Linked DNA regions of Homo sapiens. The protein of the gene in region 1 interacts with the protein of each later gene in a biochemical or structural test. Each region holds a gene or a part of one and is shown on either strand. Other genes may lie near its edges.

What was found.
Region 2: the proteins of BMP6 (region 1) and ACVR2A form a complex in vitro, tested with the Homo sapiens proteins (one study listed by BioGRID).

Annotation. Positions count from the first base shown.
Region 1 is NC_000006.12:7,732,482-7,736,309, reverse strand, and holds part of BMP6 (bone morphogenetic protein 6 preproprotein), read right to left. Parts: intron 1-3,828. UniProt on the Homo sapiens protein: Growth factor of the TGF-beta superfamily that plays essential roles in many developmental processes including cartilage and bone formation.
Region 2 is NC_000002.12:147,921,268-147,925,095, reverse strand, and holds part of ACVR2A (activin receptor type-2A isoform 1 precursor), read right to left. Parts: intron 2,124-3,828; coding exon 1,985-2,123; intron 1-1,984. UniProt on the Homo sapiens protein: On ligand binding, forms a receptor complex consisting of two type II and two type I transmembrane serine/threonine kinases.

The DNA.
Region 1 (3,828 bases):
CTTTATTTTACTCCCCCAAATCCTGCCTAGCATGGATCAAACAGGGCACAAGCCAGGGAGAAATTTAATCACTCATATCTCTGCCTGAGGGATTGTCTAGGTACTATGGTGACAGACACCTCAGTCAAACTATGCGGAGGAAAAAAGATTTTTAAACTCCTAGACTTAAAAACAAAGAAAGAAAAAAGAAAGATTTCTGATGGATTTGTTGTCAACACATAGAAGCACTATAAAATAAATCCCACATTGTCATAGACTATCAAAATTACTTCCTTAGGGACCACTTTAGTAAAACCCCAGAAACAAAATATTCTTCAACTGAGGTATTTTATAATTCTTTCCCCGAACTCTGCGTATTTTGAATTTTTATACTTTCATTGACTTGTTTTTCCTTGTTTAATGTACAGCTTCTCCACAGAGGATTTGTAGGGCAGAGTAGTTTCACAACTCCTCGGCATGATACTATAGCGGTGGATAACATCATTACACATTTGTCCAAATCCACAGAATCTGCAACACTACGAGTGAACCGGGATGTAACTACAGACTTTAGGTGACAATGATGTGTCCATATAAGTTCATCAATTGCAACAAAGATACCAAATTCTGCTGGGTGATAATGGAGGAGTCTGTGCACCTGTGGGGCAGGGGGTACCTGGGAAATCTCTGCAAAATTTTGCTCAGTTTTGCTGTGAACCTCAAACTGATCTTAAAAAAAAACCCTCTCTTTCTAAAAAATGTACAGCTTCTCCGTTGTTAACTTATTCCGATATGGGAGTCTACAAATAAAATCTGAATAAAAATCAAAATTAAGTAAAAACTTTTAGTCCTTAATTTTGTAGTTTACAAAACTCAGTCTTTGGACTATTTAAATGTAATTCATAGATTCAAAAGGAGGGAGGGAAAATAACTGGTCTCAGAGAATAAGCAAGGCTAATATTATAAGAAATCTCCTGGCCTAATCAGCTCTTACCAATGATATGGTTCACTCATGCTCTGCTGAGACACAAATCAGAATTTTTTTTCCAGCCCATGTTCACGTACAGGAAACCAACAGGACTGTAAACACAGCAACAACAATCAACAAACGCAGACGTTCTGGACGGTGAAAGGGCAAGCGGCAGGAGAGTGATAATAAGGCCCGTGGCGGATATCGGAGGTCAGGGTGGAGCGGGCTCCGGGGCTCTGCCTCCGAGGGGCACTGTTTTCTGCGCCCTGTGAATCCACTCCACTCCACTTCCCCCCGTGGCCAGCTGAGCTCTTTGGTGATATGAAAACAATCTGAACATATAATCGGCACTGTGTGGCAAGGACATTTTAGGCCTAGGACAATCCTGACCTGGCCAGCAGGAGGATCAGTCATCAAGGGCGTATGCCTATAAATCTGAAAGTCAGGAAGGCTCTCCCACTTGGAACCAGAACCTCATCCTGCAAAAATGTTTGAAGGAGATTCTTCGACCCAGTCATCTGGGACTGTGCTTGAGATAACGAGACCGTGGGGACCCATCAAGGAATTAACTGATGTAATTTAGATATCATCTCTATTATGGTCCCAATCTCCTTAATAATGGAGATGGGAAGGGCAGGAAGAGAATCAGTGGATATCAGTGGAACAATGCCACTCAGAGCAACGTGGTTTTCAACTCAATTTCGGAGCAGAAAACAATTCTTTGGAGTCAACAGTCCTTTGGACATTTATAGATATACATAGCATTTTCTTTTCTAAAAGTAGAGTTCTTGGAGAAGATGCTATCCACTAAGAGAAAACCCCAACAATTCCAGATTTGGGTTTCCTCGGCTCTTCCAGGGTTGTGCTCTTGCCTGCTTTTGTAATTTCTCCTTCATTATCCACTCCAGCCTGGCCAACAGCCCTATTGCTCTGATGCACTAGGATCTCTGTGTGTTTTCATGGATTGTCCCTCAATCTTAAGAGGTAACAGCAGTAAAGAGAAAATGGTGGTGAAAACATCTAACAAATTTAACTGCGAACAAACAGATTAGATGATATGCGAGAACTTTTCAAGCTCTAAATTCTATGATCTATGGCGAACATACATTCACCAGTTATCCCAAACTCATTTAACCAATAAACCCCAAATGGGTTTTCTGTTGCTGGGGCATACGTGTCCCCAGAAAAACCATGTTAGGGATGGTAGCTGTGTTCCCAGCCTGGCTTCAGACCCTTAACTTTATGCATAGGGTGCTGAAATACTACATATTCACATTGGAAAAAAAGTATAGACAACAAAATCTTCAAAACACTAGTGACTGAACACAAAATCTGATAAATTTCAGTGACCCACAATGTGTTACTGATTTCTAATGCTTGTAGTAAAAGGTGAACAGGGGGAATGCAGGTTCTGAGAATTTCTGGTACTCTCGAAACTTCAGAGGTTAATGGCACTGAAAAATTAGAGTTAACTCTAATTTTCACCGAAGTGGTGATGGCTTTCCTTCCCCTTCATACAACTATCACCACTTTCATATATTCCAGGAGAGACTAGTGCCGTTTTCCGACTCACACGTTTCCAGTGGGTAAAAGCTGGATCAGAGATGGGAGTGAGGGTGTTGAAGAGAAGGTAAGGGTATGATCAGAAAAGAAAGTGTATTTGAATAAAGTTAACTCCGCTGTCGTGATGAAAACAGGGAAATAAGAACAACATAATGCACTGGTTCCTTGCGGGGAACACAAGAGAAGATGCCAGCTATGCCCTATATCTGCCCCCCAGGTGACACCCTGCGGCTGGAGCAGCCCAGCTGCTGGGCACATGGCTGGGTTATGCTGTGGCCTAGGGAGGGGGGGACAGGATGGTTAATGTGTAACAGCTGTTTACGTGAATGGGGCCTTGGTAAATTGTCTATTCCTATCTTAGGGAGTTTCTGCGGTGATTTCTACTCCTTTTACTCATATATTTATGAAAACTAGTGAAAAACAAAATTGTCTAATTAAAATATTGTCTACTTTTCTTCCCACTACTGGAAGCACCAAAGATGGCAAAATGACTAAAATTCTGAACAGAAGAGGAAGAAAAATAGAATAAAGATCGAAGTAGAAAAATTAAAACTGTAACGACGTTGTGCTAAGTTAAACAATAGTCATTCCTGGCCGGACGCAGTGGCGTGAGCCTGTAATCCCAGCACTTTGGGTGGCCAAGGCAGGCAGATCACTTGATGTCAGGAGTTTGAGACTAGCCTGGCCAACATGGTGAAACCCCAGCTCCACTAAAAATACAAAAAAAAAATATTAGCCAGGTGTGGTGGCGGAGACCTGTAATCCCAGCTACTCTGGAGGCTGACACAGGAGAATTGATTGAACCCAGGAGACGGAGAGGTTGCAGTGAGCCGAGATCTCGCCACTGCACTCCAGCCTGGGTGACAGAAAAAGATACTGTCTTAAAAAAAAAAAAAAATCATTCCCTAGAATAGTTCATTTTTGATATAAGATGGGAAGCAGAAAGTGAAGGATTGGTTTGTGAAAAAGTTACAGAAAGCTGCTTCATGATGCAAGACATTGTACCCTCTTCATTTTCCTTGTCTAACTCACCTTCGTAAATAGGAGTGAGGCAAAGACAGCAGAGCTGCTATCTTTTAGTTTGCTACGTTTGATATACTACGTTTGATATACTACATTTGATAGCCAGTATTTAGCCAGTATTCATAGTCAAGTAAAATATCAATTTGAAATCCAACATATAAAGTAGTTACTCTCTGAAGACACAGAGAGGCAACAAATTATATGCTAAAGCAAGCACTGAGCATTGTTTTTGTATTTAAACAGATTCTTATCCCAGGGAAGCCCTCCTCCAAGCTGATCAGAGGTAAGCTCTC
Region 2 (3,828 bases), on another chromosome or scaffold:
GTGACCAGATAGATGTATGTGTGCATAAACACAAATTTTGTGAAGCTCTTGAAATGCACTAAATACTCCTGGGTAGAATACAATGAATCATAAAGGGGTCATCTAACTTAACCCTCTTCAAATATAAGAATTATCTATGGCTGGACAGTTGGTCTCTGCTTGAGTACTTCCAGTGACAAAGTACCGACATTCTAAGGTGTCTATTCAACACTTATGTGGTGTACAGGCCAGCAACACTGCCGTCAACTGGTAGCTTAGCTTTTAAGAAATGTAGACTCTCAGGCTTCAACCCAGACCTACTGAGTCAGAATCTAAATTTTAACAAGATTCCTAAGAATCTGGTATGACACATTAAAGTTTGAGAATTACTTCATTTAACAAACAAGTAACCATCAACACACGTGAAAGCACCTACTTTAGCAATCAATGCTCACACTATCCTCTCTACCCCAATTTCTGACTTAACAATTGGGTTCTGACTTAAGAGTCAGAAATGCCTGACTCTGAAATTATTTCATGGCATTTAAGAAAAGTCAGTATCTAGCCTTTTCTTTTTCCAAAAGAACTTCTCTGAAACCTCTCTTCCCCATAAACAAAGCAATTTCTCCCCTAAACTCCTAAAACACATGCTTGTATTTCTTAAGTATTGCACTAACCCAGAAACATTTATTGAATACCTATGTACTGGGGAATGGGCCAGACAACTCACACTTAACTTACTCTAGAGTTAATTGTCCAGGATATATTTTATTGCCCTAACTAAACTGTATATTACTTGAGAATAAGGTCTTGTGTCTCCTAAATTACTTAATCCAATGATTTGTTATGGAGAGTTCATATTAATAAAGTTCTTATAAAATATATTTTCCTATAACATCTGCCATCTAACCTACTTCTGCTTCCATAAATGCACATCATAAATGTCATTCCTCTTAGAGTCAAAACACTCTGCGTTCTTAACGCTTCTTCCTAAAGACTTCTGAAATTATTCCAAAATTGCTTCAACTTTTCTTAGGTTTGGCATTGACTCCCAAGCCAATCCCTCAATCCTGGAAGAATGCCCATTTCTGAACACTCTATTAAATTCCCTTTAATAGTACCCTATATTGAATTTCATATTCCAGTGGCAGTCTGTCCTACAACGAGAGCCTATTACAGTACTCAGAAAATAAAATATTGTTAGTAACATAGGTTACATTGGTTATAACTTAAAATATTCACAATTTCTTCTATGGTCTTTGACAATCACAGGAAGTTTTTAGGCAATTATAAATTAGAACTTAAGAAACAGATCAAGCTCATTTACATCTGTTTAGGAGTTTAGCAGTCGGCAAGTTTGCCTTATATTATTCAAAACAAAAAATGCTGCAACATACTTGAAGACAGAGTAAAGACCTTATGAAGGAGTACTAAAGACAGTGCTTGAAACACTAAAATAGTTCTGTCACACTGGAAATATCGTCTGAAAATTTACCCAGAAAAATAAATAAATAAAAGCAAATATCTATAAGACTTGAACATGGACTTCAATAACAAGAACAAGTAATAGAAACCCTTTAACCTGGGGGGCAGGACCCATATGACCTTAAAGCAGACCTCTCCCTATGTCTGGATCAGAGTTTCAAATCTAGGTTTCATCATTCACCAGTTTGAGGCTAAAGTAGGCAAACTACTTAATTTCTCTGCATCTCAATTTCCTCATATGTAAAGCATAATAACTACCTCTGAAACCGTTTTAGGAAATAACCTTAAGGTATGTGAAGTGTCCAGCAACATAGCTAGTAATGGTAAAGGATCAATACATAGCAATTCCTTTCCTCTCCTACCCCACCCACTGCTCCCCTGCCTCCTGAATTCTCTACCATCTCTTGGAGTCAATTAAAAAAAAACTGTACTTTAAAATATTACCTTGGAGTGTATCATCCCTTTTCATATATGTGTGGTAGGCATATATATCTTTTTTAAAAATATTTTTTTCCCTTACCATCTGCAGCAGTACAGCGAGAAGCCAGTTCCCATAGGACTAATCCCATGGCATACATATCTATCCTCAAAAATGCATCCCTTTGGAAGTTTATAGCACCCTCTAATACCTCTGGAGCCATGTACCTCCGGGTACCAACCTGAAAAAGATGTTAAAAGCAAAGAGTACTCATTCATTAACTTTATGAACTAACATATGATTTTGTAAGATGAATCAAAACCAAATGTGGTCTATTACCAGGGTAAGGTATACACACTATAGCGTATAAATAGAAAGATCCTTTCTGCGTATACTTAAAAAATATATCAACAGACATTATGCTGGTACAGACTTAGAAGTTTTTATGTTCCCCTTTCTGGATGTAATCACAAGAAACTGAACCAATTGTCAGCTGGGAGAAGGATGCTGCATACTTTTCAACTGTACCTTTGCATACTGTTTGAAATGTAGCTTTAAAAAAAAAACTTTTTTTGAGGTCTTTTCTCTGTATTAAAAAAACTAATAAAATGTTATAAAAAGAATTAGCTAAGTAAAGGACAGACTGATGTTAAAAAGTTCTATCTGTACAAAATCTATGTATTTGTTTATTCATAAATTCTTCTGTCTTGGAGTCCTTTATTTATAACTGTCCCCAACAATTTGGTATTTCTTAGTACTGTAACTATGGTTACTAAGCTAGTACAGCTAGCTTTGGTTGGTGCTTGACAACATTCATATATGAATGCTTAAAAATATTTGTGAGATAGCTGGGTACATCACAACATACTTGCGATGTATTCGAACTAGAGAGTAGTCTAGATATTGGTACGTCCATAACGCTCCATCCTTAGGTGGCTATAATCTCTACTCTAGACTAAAAGTTGGGCAATTTATGCAAATATACATGTAAAGATTTTTTTTAAGAATAAAGACAGATCACTAAGACTAAAGTTCAAGGAGAACACATTAAAGGGAAAAGTGGCTCTACTTTTAAAAAATTTACTACTCAGAATAATTATTTTAATTGTGCTATCAGTGAATGTTTCCCTAAAGCCTACTTTTCTCTTACAGGTAAATGTATGCCATCCAAGGTACCTACCTCTTTTATTGTAAGATTATGGTTTATTTACCATGTTGACATAAAATGTTCCCTCTTTTATATGTGTTCTTTGTACTATATAAAATGTGCAATAACATGCAAGTCCCTCCAAATATTTCTGAAATTTTCTGGTCCATGAAATCTAAAGTCAAGGAGTCATTACTGTAAGCCAATAATTTTTAACTAATCATAAAACCCAGTTGTGAAGGAGTTAAAAATATGACATGAATGAGTCAGAAATTTTTTTTCTCAAAAAATGAGGGAGGGCTTATGAGGTACCAAATTAAGAATATGTTCCCAGAATTTAGTCTTATGATAGTCTATCATTCAATTAGCTTAGAAGTTTGTCCTCAGGCTTCCTACACAATCTTGGTAGTATTCTCCACAAAATTGCCTCCATTCCCATACACATTTGCAGTCAACTTTTCTAGAGCTATATGGCTACTGACCATTACCCCAAACTACATTCTTAAATAGTTAGTCAATACTGCCAAAATTGGTGGTGCCATGACATTAAAAACGTGTCCTCAGGAACCAATAGGATATGCTGGGGAAAAGAAACCTAAGAATTAGTTGGCCAAATAATTTACATGATATGAAAGATGAAGAAATGATAATGTCGAAGGCCTGAACCATTTAGCTTTGTAGAAAATGTCACCTTTTAGGTTGAACTGGTTTCCCTGATTAAAAGGTGATCTTGGCTGGGCGTGGTGGCTCACGCCTATAATCCCAGCACTTTGGGAGGCCGAGGTGGGAGGATCACTTG